Regions from separate parts of the Homo sapiens genome. Here regions 1 and 2 are each reported to be linked to region 3. The links are microRNA targets in miRTarBase. Many come from high-throughput screens and were not tested one by one. Region 3 holds a microRNA gene; each other region holds the end of a gene's coding sequence.
Evidence for each region. Region 3 holds the annotated microRNA hsa-miR-4693-3p (UGAGAGUGGAAUUCACAGUAUUU, at 2,967-2,989, shown strand). A microRNA usually pairs through its seed, bases 2 to 8, with sites in the 3' UTR of a target mRNA and lowers its output. Matches are read on the target gene's strand: a 7mer-m8 pairs with bases 2 to 8, a 7mer-A1 pairs with bases 2 to 7 and ends in A, and an 8mer does both.

Region 1: miRTarBase lists MRO as a target of hsa-miR-4693-3p. The part of its 3' UTR that is shown has no 7-base or 8-base seed match.
Region 2: the mRNA of ARHGEF4 is a reported target of hsa-miR-4693-3p. The part of its 3' UTR that is shown has no 7-base or 8-base seed match.

Annotation. Positions count from the first base shown.
Region 1 is chr18:50,795,439-50,799,680 of GRCh38, forward strand. It overlaps MRO (maestro), which reads right to left. Exons shown (of 8, transcript NM_031939.6): 8 at 1-3,952. The coding sequence ends at 3,899. Among named protein-coding and RNA genes, the nearest start is that of MRO, 22 kb to the right of the region's middle.
Region 2 is chr2:131,045,581-131,049,786 of GRCh38, reverse strand. ARHGEF4 (Rho guanine nucleotide exchange factor 4) reads right to left here. Exons shown (of 14, transcript NM_001367493.1): 14 at 2,534-3,749. The coding sequence ends at 3,598. FAM168B (family with sequence similarity 168 member B) reads left to right here. Exons shown (of 7, transcript NM_001009993.4): 7 at 1-1,911. Among named protein-coding and RNA genes, the nearest start is that of SMIM39, 13 kb to the right of the region's middle.
Region 3 is chr11:103,846,985-103,851,226 of GRCh38, forward strand. It overlaps MIR4693 (microRNA 4693), which reads left to right and starts at 2,922; the gene lies at 2,922-2,996. LOC102723862 (a long non-coding RNA gene) reads right to left here and starts at 2,567. Exons shown (of 4, transcript XR_001748346.2): 1 at 2,430-2,567; 2 at 960-1,143.

The DNA of each region.
Region 1 (4,242 bases), not on the chromosome of region 3:
CACAGCTGTTGTTTCTCGCTTTCAAAACATTCTAGTGCTTTTTTATAACGTGTGAAGCGTTCCCCCAATTAAGTGGTCTATTAACTGGAAGTTCACAGGCTTCTGCTCTCATTCAGTAGCAGAATTGGTCACACCTGTTAGATTCTCAGCCTCCTCCTTTGTCATTTTCTCTCCTCTCTCTCCACCACTTCCCTCTCCCCTTTAAGAAAGACCTATCTCAGCCAGGAGCGGTGGCTCACGCCTGTAATCCCAGCACTTTGGGAGACCAAGGTGAGCAGATCACTTGAGGTCAGGAGTTTGAGACCAGCCTGGCCAACATGGTGAAACCCCGTCTCTACTAAAAACACAAAAATTAGCCAGCCATGGTGGCAGGCACCTGTAATCCCAGCTACTCAGGAGGCTGAGACAGGAGAATCGCTTGAACCCAGGAGGTGGAGGTTGCAGTGAGCCGAGATCGTGTCATTGCACTCCAGCCTGGGTGACAGAGTGAGGCTCCATCTCAAAAATAAAAATAAAGAAAGAAAGACCTATCTCATGAGCACCAGAGACACAGGGACCAAGCAAAGCTCTACCCTGGGCACTTAGCATGAGGGTCGGGGCACTTGAACATTCCTTTTTTCTTTCTTTCATTCAACTGCTCAATAAGGTTCAAAATTAATGTTCAAAATTAAGAAATGTCAAAACATTACCTTTGGGTTGGCATTCAGATAAACGTGGGGAAGGGGAAACTTGAAATGCACAAGCATAAAAGTAACCTGTACATTGGTTATAAGGAATGAAATTGGTGACCCTCATTTGTCAAAATGGGCTCCTCCCAGTAAGGAATGACAGCTTCAGATGACTTTCTGACATTTTTCCCCCTAATCAACATTCATTTACAGAGTACTTTTGCAGTCACCGGGGAGATACAATGATGTACAAGATACAGCCCTGCCTTCTGTAGTTTCAATCTAACAGGATAAAAAAAAAAACATAAAGCCATATACAAAAAAAAACTTTTCAGATAAGATATAAGTGGTATAATATTGCTAGAATGTTCTGGGAATTCAGAGACTTGAGCTCTCCCCTGATTGGGGGGATCAGGACTTTGACCTAGGCATTGGAGTACAGATAAGAGATACACGTGAAATGTGTGTGTGTGTGTGTGCATGTGATTCCAGGTGGGTGTGTACAGGTGAGCAGGGAGGGGACTCAACACAGAAATAGCAGACTGAGCAAAGGTGAGGGGGTATAGGAGAACAAGACATGTTGAGAGAAGAGAAAGGACCCAAACTTGTCTGAAGCAAAGAGAGTAACAGAAGAAAACGAAGGTTGAAAGCCTGAAATGGCAGACTGGACATTGGACTTTATTCCCTCTACAATTTGGAATCATTTAGTCATTCAGCAAATGTTCCTTAATCACATGGCCAGGCTCTGTGGTAGGTATGGTGAGAAACAGAAACAAACAAACAAAAAAACATAGTCCCTTGCTCTTGCCACCAAATTTCATGATAACATAAATTTCTGGAAATAGAATTTAAACTCAAAGAGGACTTATGAAGAGCAAAACAAAATTAGCCAAGACAACAGTTAATAATAAGGAATCTTCTCTGGTTACTTATTGCAGTGTGACAAATTATCCCAAAGGTTAATGACTTAAAACAACAATCATTTGATTCTTTGTTCATGCTTCTGCAACTGACACAGGCTTGATGGAGACGCTCGTCTCTTTTCCGTATGGTGTCAGCTGGAGTAGCTTCAACAGCTCGGGTCTGGCTGGAAGGGACAACTTGTGTCATGTGTCCGGGCCTCAGACTCTGCTGTGGGTTGGGTGTCTCCGTTCTCCTTCACATGGTGATCTCAGGCACTCTCATTTGTTCCTGGTAGTTCAACTCCTTATGTGGCAGCTGGCTTCCCCCACAATTCAAACGAGGAAACTGCCAGGGTTTCTATGCCCGGCACAGTGCCATTTATCACAATCTCCTGATTAAAGCAAGTCACAAAGGCAGCCCAGATTCAAACAGAAGGGACTAAATAAAGACATGAGTATCAGGAGGCATGACTCATTGGGGGCCACCAAAATAAAAGCCTACCATTGAATCTTAAAGTCAAATAATCCAACCGCATCTTCCACAATTTTAACCGACAGAGGGACATTAACTGCATAGGTTTTTCTACTCCAGAGCACGTAACCCCACCCATCTCACCCTATCCCCACCTTTTTGAATGCCAGCCACATGCAGCCATTTCTCAGACCACTCACTGATCACTTAATGGAACTGCATCAAGTTTAAACCAACCTTGCAACAAAATTTCAAAGAGGCCAGCATCCGGGGAGTGGGTGCTAGGGAGGGGCAGGGGGCTTACAGCTCAGAACCACCCATTTGCTCGTGAGCCTGTGTCCCTCCTAAAATCTCTTGCTGTCATGTTCTTCAGATTCAGAACAGGAAGGAAGAAAATCCATTCCTGCCTGGCACTTGCCACTCTGTCTGCCATCTCCCACATCCTCATCTCGCCTAGGTCTCTCCTCATCCCCGCATCTGTGTCACACCACCCTGTCCCTGGGAGCTACAGCAGAAAATTGAGTTCCTCATTCTCAGAATGCCACTTAAGATCCAGCTATAGCTTTTATAATCCCCCGTGTTTTAAATTGTCTTGAACAAAACGCTCCGGGTGTGGCCTGGATACTGAATTCAGGGGTGGTACCAGAGTTTCTATAGAAGCTTGGGATGCAATCTGGTTAGAGGGAGGGTGAGAGGGACTTAGAGATTTTTCTTGTAATTTTTACGAGTGATGTGACTCCTTGGATAACTAGGATTGATCACCAAAATAATTGACATTAATAGCCAAAAAGTAATTAATAAAAACACTCAGCTCACATAAATTAATAAAAATGTATACTTAGTACATATAAAATCAAAAGTTAACTGGGCTTAGTAGAGGAGCAGAAGCAGAGATGTTTGCATTTGCTTTGTTTTTAACATTTCTAACCATCCATCAGTTATTCCATGGAAAGGCAGGATGGCATGATTATTGAGTATGGGCTCAAGAAGTCAGACCGTACATGTTTGAATTCCAGCTCCACTGTTTACTGAGTTATCTGGGGAAAGTTACCTAATTTCCCTATGTGTTAGCTTTCTCATCTATAAAATGAGAACAATAATAATACTTACTATCTCAGGGTTGTCGCAAGTATTAAATAGAACTTACAAAAAGCACTTTGACCGTGCCCACTGAATTGTAAGCACTCGGTGTTACCTACTATTGTTATCCCGTAAGTTATCATGAGCCTGAGGATTTTCAACACATGCTTTATAGATTTTTTTCTCTCTATTAATTCTTGTTTAGCATGATCTTGAAAGCAATGACTGTTTAAAATTATGAGAAGCCAAAGATGCCCCTGCAAGCCACCTTCTTGGTATCTTGGCCAACTTTAAATAAATCTTGGCAAGTAAAGGTATCAATAGCAAAGTATCAATAGCAAATACACTAAAAAAAAACAAAACAACAACAACAAAAAAACAAAAAAACGCTTAAGGTAACAAGTATTCTCCTAAGCCTCAGAAATTGAGTATTAAAAATAAAAGCTAGGTGACAGAGATGAACTTAAGAAAGAAAAAGCTGAGAAATAAGCACTGAATCTATATACACTTGGAATGTTTTAAAGAAAGTGTGTACCTGCTCATCAAATTTGTATGGGGAGGAAATGAAATAAGTGAAAGCAGTCTAGAATTTTACTTTAGATAAAATCATACAATTCCATGTATTATTTTTGCCTTTGATTGCTCTCCCAGCACCCTCTTTCCCATTACAATCCCAAGAGGCAAGCAGTGAGAAGAGGCATCCAGTGAGATAAAACAGGGGAACATGATGGCTCAGCAATGCACTCATACAGAACCATTTCCCTGCTGCTCTGCGCTTACAGAATTTTATTTGCGTAGAAGAACTGCAGGATCTCTGGATGATAGTGGCTCTGAAAGAAATTAGCAAAGGTACGCGTGAGGGCAGGATTCAACAAACTTCCTTGACAATGTAACTAGTAGGCAGTGATCAGTGCAGGGCATGTGGATAAGCAGGAGAGGTGGAGGCATCATCTGTATCCAGCTAGTGACCTGAATTGGAACTGCCGATATATCTCGTGCTTGATCCTCTAGGCGTTTTGCCATTTACATTGTATGATGGGTCAATTACAATCAAAACACAGTTGGCTTGGCCGGGCATGCTGACTCATGCCTGTAATCCCAGTACTTTGGGAGGCTGAGG
Region 2 (4,206 bases), not on the chromosome of region 3:
GAAATTTGCTTTTTGTGTGTTTGACATTCCTAATTTGGGAGTCCTTCAGCTGAATTACTATTCTTTTAGAAGTTGAGACAGCAGGTAAGCAAAGGACCTAGTTCATGTAAACATGGACATCATGATGGCTATTTAAAAAATATTTGTTCTACACCTTCTCCCCTGAGGCTTGGGGAGTGTGTTCAGCCGCTGCAGTTTCTCTGCTCATGGAGGTCTTGTTTGGATCTGTGCTGGCGGCTGAGCATTTAGTGTGAGCCAGTGACCCATGAACTTGCCGCTCTGTGAGGGCCAGAGTCAGGGCCAGTCATGGTAATGGGCCTGAAGGCACTTCCAGAACCTTTTATGTCTCTCGTGAGCCATCTGTTAAGAACGTTCTTCTTGGTGTGGTTTGTAGGCCTACCTGTCGCTATTCTGGGAAACCTTCTTGAGTGCTATGCAAATGTGTTCACAGGCAATGGGGGTGGTCCTGAGCCTTGGGGTGGGCACCTGGTCAGTGAGTGTCTTGCCCTTCCCCAGCTGGGCATACAGTACCTTGCTCTTTCTGGTGGCATCATCTGGCTGTGATGAATGAGGTCTAGGAAATAATTTGCATGTGTCTTGGGGGACACAACAGTAACGAGAGGAAATACATTATTACAGCAACTTGCGACGTACTAATACCTGTCAGTGTTGGCCCCCGTAAGGTATGTAAGGCACCTGTGAGTGCCAGTGAGTGCTGGTGAAAGGCCAACATGTACTAGTTATGTAAGTATTGGTGTCTGCTTTAAAAAAGGAGACCCAGACTTCACCTGTCCTTTTTAAACATTTGAGAACAGTGTTACTCTGAGCAGTTGGGCCACCTTCACCTTATCCGACAGCTGACTGTTGGATGTGTCCATTGTCGCCAGTTTGGCTGTTGCCCGGACAGGACAGGACCTCCATTGGGCGCAGCAGCAGGTGGCAGGGGTGTGGCTTGAGGTGGGTGGCAGCGTCTGGTCCTCCTCTCTGGTGCTTTCTGAGAGGGTCTCTAAAGCAGAGTGTGGTTGGCCTGGGGGAAGGCAGAGCACGTATTTCTCCCCTCTAGTACCTCTGCATTTGTGAGTGTTCCCTCTGGCTTTCTGAAGGGCAGCAGACTCTTGAGTATACTGCAGAGGACATGCTTTATCAGTAGGTCCTGAGGGCTCCAGGGGCTCAACTGACCAAGTAACACAGAAGTTGGGGTATGTGGCCTATTTGGGTCGGAAACTGCATGTTTCAGAAAGTTTGTCTCTTTTTCCTACTCATTATTTGAAGAAGAGAGAGCCTGTGGGGATAGCCTTATCTTGGTCCACAGGACTGAAGTGAAGTCACTTGGGAAGGGGAGACAGAGGATGAGCGGCGTCTGTGTAGGGACCCCCCCCCGGGCCTGCAGAAGGGTGGTGTGCTCCCAGGACTGGCATGACAGGTGTCTCCTCCTCACCACAGGCTGTGCCCATGAGTCCCTGTGCAGACCAGTGGGCAAGGCAGCTGGGCCAGATCTCAGGCCAGCCGTTTGTGCTCCTAGCAGGGTTGCTGTGCTGGCCACACGGAGAGGCCCTAGAGAGCCTCATGGATTGTAACTAAAGAAGAAACGGTTCCTTTTTGTTTTTTTAAAAATGATTTTTAAATACCGTTTTTTACACCGTTCTCTCGGTACTTTTTTTAAGCTAAGTCAGCATTGTCTTCCAGTGTTAAAGGCATCCCTCACCTCTGCATTGAACTTACGTATCCATGCCAAGGAATGGAATTTCCATCCTGAGCCAGTTCAGTTAGGTGTCAATTGATACTATTTTAATTTTTTATGCAATCTGATGAGATGAGCTCAGATTTAAAAATCTCAAAAGCACGTTTATTGTAACAAGAATTGTTATGTATTAATACTGCAGTTTTCAATAAAGATTGACTTGTGTTGCATATTGTGGTTTTCATGATTTCTCCATATGGGTTTTTGTCTAGAGGTAGCATGGCCTGACTGGGAGGTGCTGGGGCTTCTCTCAAGTTGGGAGATTGCCAGGGGTTTTGAGAAGAAGACCACCATGGCGTCCAGCCCCAGTGACCTTGGCAGTGCTGGAGTGTGGTGGAGGCAGCAGGTTGCAGGGGACCATTTTCCCAAGTGGGACAGGGAGGGAAGCAGCACCATGCTCCCCTTCTGGCTTCTGTGGCCAGGGTCAGAAGACCCTGGGAAGACACGTTCTTCCTCATTTCACCAGGGATGCTGAGGCCCAGAAAGATTACTGACTACTCACCCACCAAACTCACGTGGGCCAGCTCCAGTCAAACAAACACAGGGAAGCACTGGTTTCTGGGTCTTGAGTGCAAGGGAGGGCAGAGCTACCTGTATTCCCCATCAGCAACCAGCATGGCCTGGCCCTGCTCGCCTTAGGCGAACAACTGCAGCCAGCCCCGCCTCAGCCTATCATCTCCACTAAATCCCCGAGGGTGTGATCTGCGACAGGTGAGCCCCCACCCCACCTTTAGAGGCTGCTGGCCACAGGAAAATGCACGCACACCCACAGAAAACGGGCTAGCAGCCAGGTTACTTTTCATAAATTTATTTATGAAATTAAATGTGGTTTCTGGCTTGGAGAAGGAATAGTGCAAGAGTGACTGTCCATGCTGCTGAATCCTGTGGGCTCCACGCCAGCTCGCCAGGCCCTGGCTCTGCTCCTGGCGCCCCTTGGCAGGACAGGGCGCCATCTCCACACACCCGCTGCCTGGGCTGTGGGTCAGTCCTGTGTGCTGAGCCACAGAATTCGGTCTCTCTCTTATGGCTTCTCACGCTCACGAGCGTAAGGCAATCTTCTGTGTCACTAAGAATCAATTCTTTTTCTCCATTGTTTGTTGTTAGAAAAACAAGATGCCAAAATCCAAACAAAACCAGGAACGAGGTGGTTCTGGAGCTACCGCACAGCAGCAGGCAGACTGACCACACTCCCGACTGGGAGTATGCAGCCGACTGCACCGTCTTGTCCTTTTCCGCTACACACACACACACAAGTGAAGAGGGTGTCCAGCAGCCAGCGGTGTCTTGAGGGGCTGGGAGGCGAAGGGCGGGCTCCGGGCGCAACACAAGGGTGTGGAATTCCTGGCTTCTGCCCTCCCAAGTGGCAAGCTGCCTGGCACCACTGGCCGGGCTGGGGACTTGGAGAACTAGAGGGCAGAGGGGCACATGGCCTGGCATTGCAGGCCACAGAAGGCCAGAGAGTCCTGCCCAGAGGAAATGAAAGGAGGATTAGGTTTCCAGAGAAGAGGGTCCCACGCAGGTAGCGCCTTCTCCCCAGCTGGGCCTGGGCTGAGCTGCGGTTTCCCCGCTCCAGCAGTGAGGCCCTACACAGGTCCAGAGGGCGGATGGGGCCCAAGCTGCAGCGGCGGTGTGGCGAGTGCGGGGTCTGCCCCCTTGCTGGTCTCTTCAGGGCACCAGGAGCAGGGAAAAAGACAACAGGAGTACAGACCTGGCACGTCTTGGTGGCACAAGCAACTCCCCAGCCCATCCCTGCTCACTTGCAGGCAGAGGAAGGCCAGGCCGAGTGGGCCTCGGGGAAGAAAAACTGGGGGCCACTGGCAGGAAGGCCCAGCAGGTGCTGTCAGGCAGGGACCAGTTCACTTGCGGAAGGGTGCCAGCCGGCTGATGCTGTGCCAGAAGGTAGATGGCTTGCGCCTGGGCTCCGCCAGCACCAGGACCTGCTGCTGGGGCCGGTTGCTGGGCAGGGCTGGGTGCTTCTGGCGCGTCAGGTAGCAGGGCCGGCCAACAGCTGAACAGGGAGAGACAGCAGAGGGTCATGGGTGCCCAGGGCAGAGTGCCACCCCAGCTGTTGGGGACAGCATGGGGTCCGTCCCAGGGCTCTGCTTCAGAGCCGCCGTAGGAGGCAGTTTTGCCACACAGGACTTGCTCCTGGAGAGCTGACCACATCCAAGAGCTCAGGCTGCCTGGGGTCTCTGGCCTGGGCCTGGCCTCCTGCAGCAGCCTGAAGAGGGGGGTGGCCTGTGCAAAGGCATGTGATGTTTCAGGGGCATGGCTCTCTGTAGAAATGGGGAAAGCAGCTCCATCCCTACACCAACCCCAGATGCCTGTCAGGAAGGAACCCTGGGGAAACAAGCATTGTCACCAATGGCCCTGATCTGGGGGAGCCAAGGTGTTGAGAGTAAGAATGTCAACCATATACTGACCCAGGCTTCCCCAGTGGCCCCTTATTACCAACCTTTGGGAAC
Region 3 (4,242 bases):
AGTTAATGTCACTATGTATTGGGAAAAAAGAGAAAAACCGACAGGTTGGGTTTCCATGAGTTGGAAATCAAAGCTAATAGGATGTGGATGTTTGTGCTGATTCTTGCAGCTGCAGTGAGCAGAGGAAATGTTCTGAGCACTTTCTCAAAAGGTTCTTCAGTATTTTAACTTAAAATCATCTTACAAAAGAAAAGCCTTTGTTGTGTTTATTTGGGGTCTATTTCATTTAATAGGTCTTCTGTATAGTGATTTGTAACTTTTATCAAAGTTGAACTTTTAATGCACATGTTACTTTCAGACCAAAGTCTTTATCCTGGAAGATGTAGCCTCTTTTTTCATTTTTATCTTGAAATGCCCCTTGGCACAAGCTTAGTTAGGAAGTTGAGTTCAGTGGAGAAAGGACGTATAGTTGATATTATACTGGTAAGCCAAGCTCTAAGTTCACCAAGTCTGTTTTTTTCATGTTAAATTGCAGGAGTAGTATTTGCCACATATACCTTATTGGATTGTTTTCAAAGTAATGCACAGGAAGTTGCTTTGTAAAAAATGACCACCATATTCATTATTATGAGTTGACTATGAATTTACTAAAGAGTACCTAGAAAGCGCTCATCTAGATTAGTCTATATGTAGTAAATTGTAATTAAGGAATACATACAGTTGCAATAAATGTGTATGATTTTATGTACCATCTCTCACTATCTTCTAGTATAGCTAATTCATATCTGGCATCAGTTTAGTGACCAAGACACCCTCTCCCTTTGCTTGGATTATTGCAATGCCTTCCTGCCTGGTCTGCCTGGATCCACCCTTGATATAAACAGCCCCAGCCACTCACCCCCAACCCCACTCCTGCTTACATATATTCTCAACCTAGCCACCAAATTATTTTTTTAATATAAGTCAAGTCATATTACTCTTCTGCCCAACCACCCCCAATGGTTTTCCTTCTCACTAACCATAAAAACCAAACGTCTTATAATGGGCTCTAAGACCCTTCAGAATTTTGCCTTCATCACGTCTCCATATTTATCTTCCATCATTGACTTGTTTCCTACATTCCTGCCACATCGGACTCTTCATTATTTCTTGTCCTGGCCTCCCCTTGAGCAAATTAAATTCTCAAAGCTTCAGCTTCCTTATCTGTAAAATAGGCATAAAAATAGTAATAACTATAGAGGACTTTTTTTTTCAGGATTAAATTAGTTAAAATGCTTAGAACAATATTTATACCTAGTGTTAAAATGTCAATATTATATTATCATAAGTTTTATTACCCTCATCTGATTTTTTGTAAAGTCTCTAATGATTTGACTCCTGAATTGACAATAATCTCTGAAAACTGTCAGAGGCGTTTGAACCAGAGCAACTCCATCTTGAATAGAAGCTGGTTAAATATGGTTGAAACCTACTGGGTTGCATTCCCAGATGGTTAAGGCATTCTAAGTCACAGGATGAGATAGGAGGTCGGCACAAGATAAAGGTCATAAAGACCTTGCTGATAAAACAGATTGCAGTAAAGGAGATGGCTAAAACCCACCAAAACCAAGATGGCAATGAAAGTGTCCTCTGGTCGTCCTCACTGCTACACTCCCACCAGCGTCATGACAGTTTACAAATGCCATGGCAAGTTACCCTATATGGCCTAAAAAGGGAGGGCATCAATAATCCATCCCTTGTTTAGCATATCATCAAGAAATAACCATAAAAATGGGCAACCAGCAGCCGTCGTGGATGCAGTCTATGGAGTAGCCATTCTTTTATTTCTTTACTTTCTTAAGAAACTTGCTTTCACTTTACTCTATGGACTCGCCCTGAACTCTTTCTTGTGAGAGATCCAAGAACCTTCTCTTGGGGTCTGGATCCTGGATTGGGACCCCTTTCCTGTAGCTGAACGGTCACATTACTTTGTTGCTTATTCATATGTTTAAGCATCTTTAAGATCCTCACTGCAGCGAAATAAAGCTCAGAACTTCAAACACTATAAGTATTCCCAGGCCCTTGCTGCTATGTCTTAGATATTTACAGCTTCCCCTGAATTCTTTTTTCTTTATCCTTTGTTTTGGGGAAGGTTGTTTTATGTTTTTCTATTCTCACTTATATTATTTCTCTCCATTTCAGTTTAATATTATTTTTCATTTTTCCTTAATATTCATAATTCAGTTTTCCCCCACACTTGGCACCCTACCCTCTACCCTCTGTCTTCAATTCTTTCCACAATTTTCGCTCCTTCCCTTTTTGCTGTCTCAAGTGAGAACATAGGCACATTTATTTAACCCCACTGGAAATCCTGTGTTTTTGTAGGAAAAGACTTGCTTTCTTGGCAGTGCTAAAAATAAAGTAATTACTGAAGGAATGCATGATGGGGCCAGTTAGTAACCTGATAAATGGAACTTGGATACAAAGCAGAGATGAATAAAAAGACTCACCTGGTCCAGGATACTGGCTTAAAATGAGCCCTGCAGCAAGGCTGACTTGATTATGAGCTCCAAACCAGGAGGCTTTTCTTTCCTCAGTCTAGGAGGCAGGAGTAAGCCTGACAGTGGCAAGAAAGTATCCTCAAGAGTGGGCTAGGGAGGGATGGGGTAAGTTGTGCTGGTAAGGACACCGTGGGAGCAGTGAGCCAGTACATTCCATTCTTACATTTTTTGGCTTTAAAAAACGGAAGGACAGAGCTATATTACTCCATTTCTATTTTGTGAAAAAGTGTAAGCTTAATAATTTTAAAACTCAAGGCTACGTTTGATTTTTCCAAAGCACAATTAAATAAAAAATAGCTCCCTCAGTGGCTCATACCTATAAGAAGCCAAATGGTTTGGATAAAAATACTATTCCCAAGTCACCAGCATCAGCCTGTATAAATAAAATTATTAGGACAGGCAAAGCAATTCAGAGGAAAGAGCATCGCTTGGGGGTAAAATGTTTAAAGAATACTGTGAATTTCACTGTCACAAATTCAAATAAAGTGAGAGTGGAATTCACAGTATTTAAGGAATCAATCCTTGCTGCTTCTGTTTATGAAGCCGAGCTTCAGTTTTCTTGCTCTGACAATGGACACAGTGATTACCTCAAGGGTTGCTGTAGGAGTTAGATGAGATATCTATAATGTAGGAAAGGTGTTTACTACAATGTAACTCATGGATAGGGGCCTATATTGGTTTTCCATTGCTGTGTAACAAATTTCCATAAACTTAGTGGCTTAAAACAACAGACATTTATTATCTTTCATTTCTGTCAGAGGTCCAGGCAACTGAGTGGTTGATATCTCTGTTCAGGGTCTCACGAGGCTGAAATCAAGGTGTCAGTTAGCTGCATTCCCCTCTAGAGACTTGACTAGGGAAGGATTCTTTTCCAAATTCCTTCAAGTTGTTGGTAGAAGTGTTTCTTGCTAGCTTCAATTAGGGATGGATCTCAGCAACTAGTGACCACTCTCAAGTCTTTATTATATGGCCCCTTTTATACTCAAAACCAGCAACAGAGAATTCCCCCTCACATCAAATCCCTCTCACACTTTCAATCTCTATGACTCAGAAACGGGCTCACCTGGCTAGGTCAGACCCACCAGAATATTCTCCATTTTGGCTAGCTCACAGTCGCCTGATGAGCAATGTAATCATAGCAGTGGTATCATACACACAGGTCTGCCTGCACTCAAAGGAGAGTGATTATCAAGGAATGCACACCAGGGGCGGCAGGAATCTGGCAGCTATCTTAGAATTCTGCCTGCCACCATTTCCATTAAGTGATTGTTGTTGTTTGTTACTGAGGCATAGATGAAGTAGCACTTATGCAGGAAAAAAACCACTAGTCAATCAGAATTTCAAGTTGTATGATGAGGTATTCCATAGAAATTAAACATGCGTATAACAGATTCTCATAGGTCAGGACACATGAAAAATTTAAGGAAAGGATGAGGACTCCTTAATTTAGAGGGACTTCTGAAAGGTGACTTAATGATGACCCAACACTATATGTGAAATCATGTTTGGCTTCAAAAGCACTGTGGGCAGAAAAGGAGAAAACGTTTAATCTAGAGTACACAGTTATGGCATTATCTGGAGGGAAGGATAAAGCTACAAAGATTGTTAAAACTAAAATTTGTTGCCAAGGGAGCCATTCGAGCTCTGTCTGGAGATCTTCTAAATGAGAGTAAATTATTCTGTACTTGAGGTGGTTTGGGCACTGTCCTCCCTGAAGCCAATGTAGAGATAAAGTGTTGTTTTCACTCCTTCTAGTCCTGTG